Homo sapiens: one gene and its partner. The protein of the gene in region 1 interacts with the protein of each later gene in a pairwise test. Each region holds a gene or a part of one and is shown in the gene's direction. Other genes may lie near its edges.

Region 1 (4,148 bases):
TGTTTATGGCTGAAAAAAAAAAATCCCAGTTATGCATCCTTGTATTTTTAAATACTGACTGTAAGTGATTCAAGTATAATCCTTTGTAAAATGCTTTTCTCTTTGACACATTGAAGGGAGTTGAGAGAGGAAAACCCGGCGTGGATTCCCCCTCCCTGGCCCCTCTCTCACCCACCACCTTCGCCCCAATTCTGCCAGCGTTGGGGCCCCTGGAAATCCCTGGGAACCTGCACCCAGGCAGGGAAGGCGTCCGTGCTGGCCCAGGCTCGACCCAACATCAGTTGGAGTTGGGTTTTAGTTCTCGGCGCTGGAAACTGTTTGGGAAGAAAGGCGCTCTCTCTAAGGTTCACTCTCTCACCTTTGCTCAAGGGAGCCAGGTCATGAGAATTCAGAATTTTAGACGCTTAGATTTGGCTGCAGCCGAATTTGGGTTCCTTCCACCCTGGAGAGGTCAGGGATCCCTGAGGGTTCTGCTCCCTAGCTGCGATTGGAAGGTGAACAGCCTCAGGGTGAAGGCCTAACAGATACGAATTTGTGGGGGAAAGAGGGAAGAGAGTCCAGGGAGAAAGAGGAGGCCCCCAGACTCGTCCCCAGTCGCCCCTCCTCGCTGCTGATACTCGCCTGTCCCTTCCCACCCAGTAAATGCTCTAGGGAAGGCCGCGCGCCTATGGCAGAGCTTTGTCTGTAAGGAGGCTTTTTCCCATTCCAGAGTTTAAAACGGAGAGGAGAGCGGTTGGGGGACGCTACAAACAAGAGAGACACAGTCGGGCTCAGGGTGAAGATAGACAGCGCAATGCCTTGGGCCGCAAGAGAAAAGCGAACTCCCAGACGGCAGATGTTTGCTTGGGGCGGTCACCCTGGCCCCCCGACGCCCGTCCGGCCTAGAGAGGACGGCAATTGAGCGCCAGGGAGGTCAAGGCGGTGTCCTGGGAGCCCAATATCGGCTTTGAAAAGTGCCGAGTGAGTCTGAACGTGAGCCTCGAGGCCTCGCCTCCAGGGAGCGAGGTCCTCGGGTTGGTGGAAGGGGCGCACGCCACCCAGATGGCATTCACAGGCCTGGCATCCCAATAAGCTAGAACTTCGGCCAACACTAAAGGGTCAAAGGAGGAGCTGCAGGAAGAGGATAGCGGACTTAGAAAATTGGTAACTTAAAAAAAGAAAGAAAGAAAAGGAAAATTGGCTCTGGTGCGTGCCCGCTGCCCCCACCCCCGCCTGCCCCTCTGGAATCCAGTCCGGGCTTTGCGCCGCGCCCACAGGCCGACGCAGCCCGGCCTCTGGCGAGAGCCAATCAGAGGGCGCCTCTCAGCACGTGGAGGAGAGAGACTCCAGAGCTCAGCGCCCGCTGCTCACTACACTTGTTACCGCTTGTCCTGAGCGCGGAGAGGGCGAGCTCGGGCCGCGGGCAGGGCGGGAGCCGGCAGCCGGCAACCAAGGGAGGCAGAAAGGCACAAAGATCGCAATAATATCCGTTATAACCCGCTATCTAACCCCACCCCCAACACACACCCATCCATCCCACCCTCCGGGAGAGGCAGCCGGCGATCCGCTCTCTGCGCCCTGGGAAAAAGCCCCAGCCATGAGCAATCAGTACCAGGAGGAGGGCTGCTCCGAGAGGCCCGAGTGCAAAAGTAAATCTCCAACTTTGCTCTCCTCCTACTGCATCGACAGCATCCTGGGCCGGAGGAGCCCGTGCAAAATGCGGTTGCTGGGAGCCGCGCAGAGCTTGCCTGCTCCGCTGACCAGCCGCGCCGACCCGGAAAAGGCCGTGCAAGGTAAGGATGCTCCCGTCAGGCACTTACTAAGGGCATTGGGCCCTGATTTGGATGTTTGGTGTTCGGGGGCCAGTGGCCTGGAATTGTCAATTTGGAGAGGAAGGAAGGAGAGGGCATAACTCTGAGGCCTGCTGCCTCAAAGAGCGTTAAACATCTAGCCAGGGCTGTCTCTCCCTCCCTCCCTCCCTGCTTCCAGAAAAAGGCCCGTTTTCGCTTAGGGAGCCTTTAGCTTTTCGGTGTTGATCGTTAGGTTGTTTAAATGCCCCTTTTGGTGGCCTTGGGTGTGCTCTGAAGAGCGGCGACAGGTCAGAAACAGTAGATGGCCGGTGGACCCTTGTAGCACCAACTTGATGAAGACAAGAAGCCCAAAAGCTGGTGAATCGGGGTCTCCAGGCTGAGTGAGCCTTGGCCTTTCCTCTTTGGAAGATTTCTGTATATGCAATGTTTTGGTTTTATTTTTTTAATTGCAGATTACTTGTGACCTTTTAAACCCAAGCTTTGCAGAAAACATCTTCCTGGGATTCTCCAAATGCTCCTTAATGTATTTAAAATGTATGAAATGTGTGACTTCTGGATGCTAATTTTTTCTCTGCTATTTTATTTTTTAAAATAGACGAGCTGTTTAAAATATTTTATTTTTTTCTGAAATTAAAAATTCCAGAACAAATGTCCTTTTACCCCGAACCTGTTATCCTCAAGTTTCGCCTCGAGCTTGCTGCAGAGGTGTCGCAGGGAAAGGAAAGAACTGTTGGTTTCTTTTAAAATCCAAAAACCAGCGGTCCGGCCATAGCGCAATTTGGATGGCAGGAGCAGACGGTTGAGAAGGGGGCATTTAAATAAAACTGACTTTTTTCTTTTCTTTTTTTAGCCTGCAGTGGCACCTATGCCAGGCGCTTCCTCAAAAGGAAGGAGCGGCCTGCGCCTGCTGCACTCCCACTCCCTCTCTGCCCCAGACCTTTCCCAGAACATTTTTGCCAGGATGATTTTTCTTTGCCTTTTTGTGCAAGAAGCCCCCCCACCCTCTCCCGCTGTGGGCTGTTGGGGCGCGGCCTGCACTTGGGGCCACAGGGCCGCTTTCCCCCACCCCGCCCCGCAGCGGTCGCCTTCAGGGCTGCACCCCTCTTGCCAACCCTTGCCCTCATGGTGGAGCAGCGGGCAGAGGTCATGCGCAAAGTTTTCAGGATAGTGGTGATTTTCTTTTAAAGTTGTAGAATGTTTTCGGATTTTCCTCTGCCCCGACGTGGGAAGGGAAATAAAAATGAGAGAGTAGGAAAGGGGAAAGAGAAAGGAATAAAGAAGAAAGAAGGAGAGAGGGGAGAGAAAGCCTGCAAAAAGAGAAAGAAAGGGGGAGAGAAGGAGAAAGAGAGGTGAGGAAAAGAAGGGAGGGGGAGAAAGAAAAAGAAAAAAGGTAAGGAGAGAAAAGGAAGGGAGAGAGGGGCAAGAGGAATAGATAAGGGAAGGAAGATAGGAAATAAAAGGGGGAGAGTGAGAGAGGGAACGGAAAGAAGGGAGAGGAAAGGGGAAAAAAGAAGGAACCCAGAGAAAGGGAGAAGGAGAGAAAGAAAGAAAAAGAAAAAGCAAGAAAAGTGGAGAAAGAGGCCAAGGCGTCGAAGTCTGGTGGTGCGCGGTCCCCGCACGCCTGGGCCTAGGCACTGGGGGAGCAACTGCGGGCGGGCCCCGGCAGCAGCCCTGGCTGGGACTCCCCGGCCGGCCGGCTGGCTGATAGCTCTCCCTTGCCCGCAGGCTCCCCTAAGAGCAGCAGCGCCCCGTTCGAGGCCGAGCTGCACCTGCCGCCCAAGCTGCGGCGCCTGTACGGCCCGGGCGGGGGCCGCCTCCTTCAGGGTGCGGCAGCGGCGGCGGCGGCGGCGGCGGCGGCGGCGGCAGCGGCCGCCACGGCCACGGCGGGTCCACGCGGGGAGGCCCCTCCGCCGCCACCGCCAACCGCGCGGCCCGGGGAACGGCCGGACGGCGCAGGGGCCGCCGCGGCAGCCGCGGCCGCGGCCGCCGCGGCCTGGGACACGCTCAAGATCAGCCAGGCGCCGCAGGTGAGCATCAGCCGCAGCAAGTCGTACCGCGAGAACGGGGCGCCCTTCGTGCCGCCGCCGCCCGCGCTGGACGAGCTGGGCGGCCCGGGGGGCGTCACGCACCCGGAGGAGCGCCTCGGCGTGGCCGGCGGCCCGGGCAGCGCCCCGGCTGCGGGTGGTGGCACCGGCACCGAGGACGACGAGGAGGAGCTGCTGGAGGACGAAGAAGATGAGGACGAGGAAGAGGAACTGCTGGAGGACGACGAGGAGGAGCTGCTGGAGGACGACGCCCGCGCGCTGCTCAAGGAGCCCCGGCGCTGTCCTGTGGCCGCCACTGGCGCCGTGGCCGCAG
Region 2 (3,500 bases), on another chromosome or scaffold:
ACTTGTTTTACAATTTCATTTTATCTGTATGTTTATGAGTGTGTCTCTTTGTATAGCTTTGTAAGTGGTTGCTGTAGGTATTCCATTATATATACATAACTTATAACTGATTGTTCGTATAGTCATTTTACCAGTTTGAGTGATGTATAGAAATTTTAGCTGTCTTTATGTTTCTTTACCCTCACTCATTTATAACATAAATTCTTTAAATATTGTTTAACATACATTTAGGACACAGACTCTTTTGCTTCAATTTTGAGCTGTTGCTTCAGTTGTCAAACATACTTTAGAAAAGAGGAGAAGGAAAGCTTATTGTATTTACCCATTTTTCTTTTTTACATACTATGTTCTTTCTACCTTCCTGATGTTCCAAAGCTTTTTATTTTATATTTTTCTTTCTGTTTAGAGGTCATTATTTTGCTGTTCTTTTAAAATAGGTCTTCTCATGATAAATTCTCTTAGTTTTCCTTTATCTGAGAATGTCTTGATTTCTCTTCATTCCTGAAGGATGTTTTTGCTGGGTATACAATTCTACGTGTACAGCTCTTTTTGCTTTTGTCACATGAAAAATATTTTACCACTTCTTTATGGCTCCCATGGTTTCTACTGAGAAACACACTGTCACTCTAATTTTTCCTTGTACTTAATGTGCAAGATTTTCTCTGTCTACTTTCAAATTTTTTCTTTGTTTTTAGTTTTCAGAAGATTAATTATGATATGGCTTGATATGAAGTTGAAAATTGTTTTGAGTTTATCTTGTTTAGGGTTTCCTTAGATTCTTGAATCTGTGAGTTTATATCTCTTGCCAAATTTGGGAGGTGTTCAGCCATTATTTCTTCAATATTGTTTTTTAAGCTCGCCTCCTTTCTCCTCTCTTTCTCGGATGCTAGTGATACAAATGTTAGATCTTTTGTTATAATCTCACAGCTCTTTAAGACTGTTCAACTTTTTTTTCAGTCTATCTTCTATTTGTCACATTGGATGCTTTTTTTTCTGTCTTCCAGATAACTGATTCTTTTCACAGTCACTTCCATTCTGCTGTTTAGCTTTATCCACTGAGCTTTCATTTCCATTATTGTATTTTTTTGGTTCTGAAGTTTCTATTTGGTTTTAAATTTTTTTTCCCATTTTTCTTTTTCTTTATTGAAACTTTCTATTTTTTTCATTTAAGTCTTTTCATAATTGTTTTTGTCAGTGCTGCTGTAAAATATTTGTTGGGTAATTCTAACATCCTTATCATTTTAGTCTTGATATCTGTTCTTTTTCTTTTTACAATCTGTTGGAGATTTCTTTGCTTCTTGGTATAATGAATGATTTTTTACTGAAACCTGGACATGTTTGTATCATGTTCTGAGACTTGAATCTTATTTAACCCGCCTGTTTTAGCCAGCTTTCTCTGACACTGCTTTGTCAGGGGAAGGGAGGGTGCCATCTTGTTACTGCCAGGTGGAGGTAGAAGTCTAGATTCCCCACTTGCCTTTGTTGACAGTTGAGGGGGAAGCTTCTTTTATTTCTGAGTTGGGGGAAGTTTCAGCTTCCTATATGGTTTCTGCTGGCACTGTGGCGGGGTGGTTTCATTACTGCTGGATGACTATAAAACTCCTGACTCCTTAGTAGGCTTCCTTTGATACTATCCCAGCGGGGAAAGGGAAGTGTGCTTCATTACTTCCAAGATGAGATGGAAGTCCAGGCTCCTCATTGTATGGTCTTCACTAGTGCTGTGGGGGGCCTCATTACTGCCTGGGAGGGTTAAAATTCTTGGCTCTAAACTTGGCCTTCTCTGACACTATTCTGGTGTTACATGCCTCATTTCTGCTTGAACAGGGTAGAAATATAAGCTTCTTACTTAGCTTTTGTTTGGCATGGTTTGGGATGGGGCCAGTTTTTTCTGTGATGTTTGACTGGAACAGAGAGATTATTATCTAGCAGTTTCTGTCTTGCTAGACTGATCCTTTCTTTGTTCTTCAGCTAGAGAAAGCAGGCTCATCTTGAGGATTTTTTAGGTCTACATTCATTGATATTTCCAGATTGAAGCCTTCTTTAGCTCCAAGTCCAGGATATATGACACAAAATGGAAACCCATTGAACTCACTACCATATTGTTCCTTGGATCCTGAATATCTTTTTTTCTCTATCTTCTAGATTCTTCTGTGTTTGTTTTGTATATGATGTCTAGTTGTACTTAGTGGGAGAACTAGGAAAAGTACATCTATTCCATCCCGTAGACAGAGATCACTTCAATCGTTTTTGAACTTTATTTTTAATGTGTCCCATGTGGCTCTTCTCTCTGCAGGTACCTGGAACTGGAAAGTAGTGGCCATCGGAATGAAGTCAGACTGCATTACCGCTCAGGCAGTCACCGCCCTCACACAGAAGTGTTTCCTTACATTTTGGCTGATGACAAGTGGCACAAGCTCTCCTTAGCCATCAGTGCTTCCCATTTGATTTTACACATTGACTGCAATAAGTAAGTGTAGTGTCCTCATTTTAGGAAATGGAAGATTCTAAGAAATGACTGTCTACTCACGTTCCTTCTTTGATGTTTCTTTTTTGCAGAATTTATGAAAGGGTAGTAGAAAAGCCCTCCACAGACTTGCCTCTAGGCACAACATTTTGGCTAGGACAGAGAAATAATGCGCATGGATATTTTAAGGTATCTTTTGGCAAAAGTCTGAGAATGAAATGTAAATGCTTTCTAATGAGTTTCAAAAAGTAGATTTTACTTTTTATGGTGTGAAACAAAATAATTTGATTTGTAAATTAGAAAATTTGTGTCTGTTTCATTTTTTTAAACAGTAATATTTTAGCCAGCAAACATTATTTTCTCTTCTTTTTTCAATGAGTTTAATTGTTAGATATTACAGAAATGATCACAAGGCTGCAATCAGGGCAGTTAACAGGTCATTCTTTGAATTAACCTTTCAAAGCAATAAAAATCTAAAATGTTAACATACAAATAAACTCTCCACCACTGAAATATAACCTTTGATGATACTTTTACAAAGATGTTAATAGCGGATTGAAAGCTTTTTAGTATATATTATTCATGGTCTCCTTGTACTGCAGAAAGTGAGAAAGGAATACACATATGTGCACAAATCTGTCAAAAGAGAAAGCAGTTATAATTTATATCTTTTCCTTTAATATGTACTTGGAGACAACACTTCATAGAATTTCTTCATTGGAGAGGCTCTAAGGGACATGTCATTTAACTTTCCATATTTTAAAGATGAAGAAATAAAGTCCAGAGAATTGCTTGACTACAAGCCCATAGTGCAATCATTTTCCCCCAGTGGCTATGACAGTCCCTACAACATGGAAGTGGCTCGATGAATGATTACCAAATCAAACAATGATAAGTGATAGTTCAACTCATAGATTTCAAGGTAGATCACATACCAGTGAATTTAATTGTTTTCTAAGCAAAGTTTATAATTCTATAAAGGTGTTTTGGGAACTTATTTAAGCATTGCCTGTTACCAGGAAACCAGATACTTGAA

What was found.
Region 2: the proteins of ARX (region 1) and NELL2 interact in a two-hybrid assay, tested with the Homo sapiens proteins (one large-scale study listed by BioGRID and IntAct).

The regions. Positions count from the first base shown.
Region 1 is NC_000023.11:25,013,166-25,017,313, reverse strand, and holds the start of ARX (homeobox protein ARX), read left to right. Parts: upstream 1-1,348; 5' UTR 1,349-1,576; coding exon 1,577-1,772; intron 1,773-3,515; coding exon 3,516-4,148. UniProt on the Homo sapiens protein: Transcription factor. Binds to specific sequence motif 5'-TAATTA-3' in regulatory elements of target genes, such as histone demethylase KDM5C. Positively modulates transcription of KDM5C.
Region 2 is NC_000012.12:44,778,816-44,782,315, reverse strand, and holds part of NELL2 (protein kinase C-binding protein NELL2 isoform b precursor), read left to right. Parts: intron 1-2,293; coding exon 2,294-2,467; intron 2,468-2,556; coding exon 2,557-2,653; intron 2,654-3,500. UniProt on the Homo sapiens protein: Plays multiple roles in neural tissues, regulates neuronal proliferation, survival, differentiation, polarization, as well as axon guidance and synaptic functions.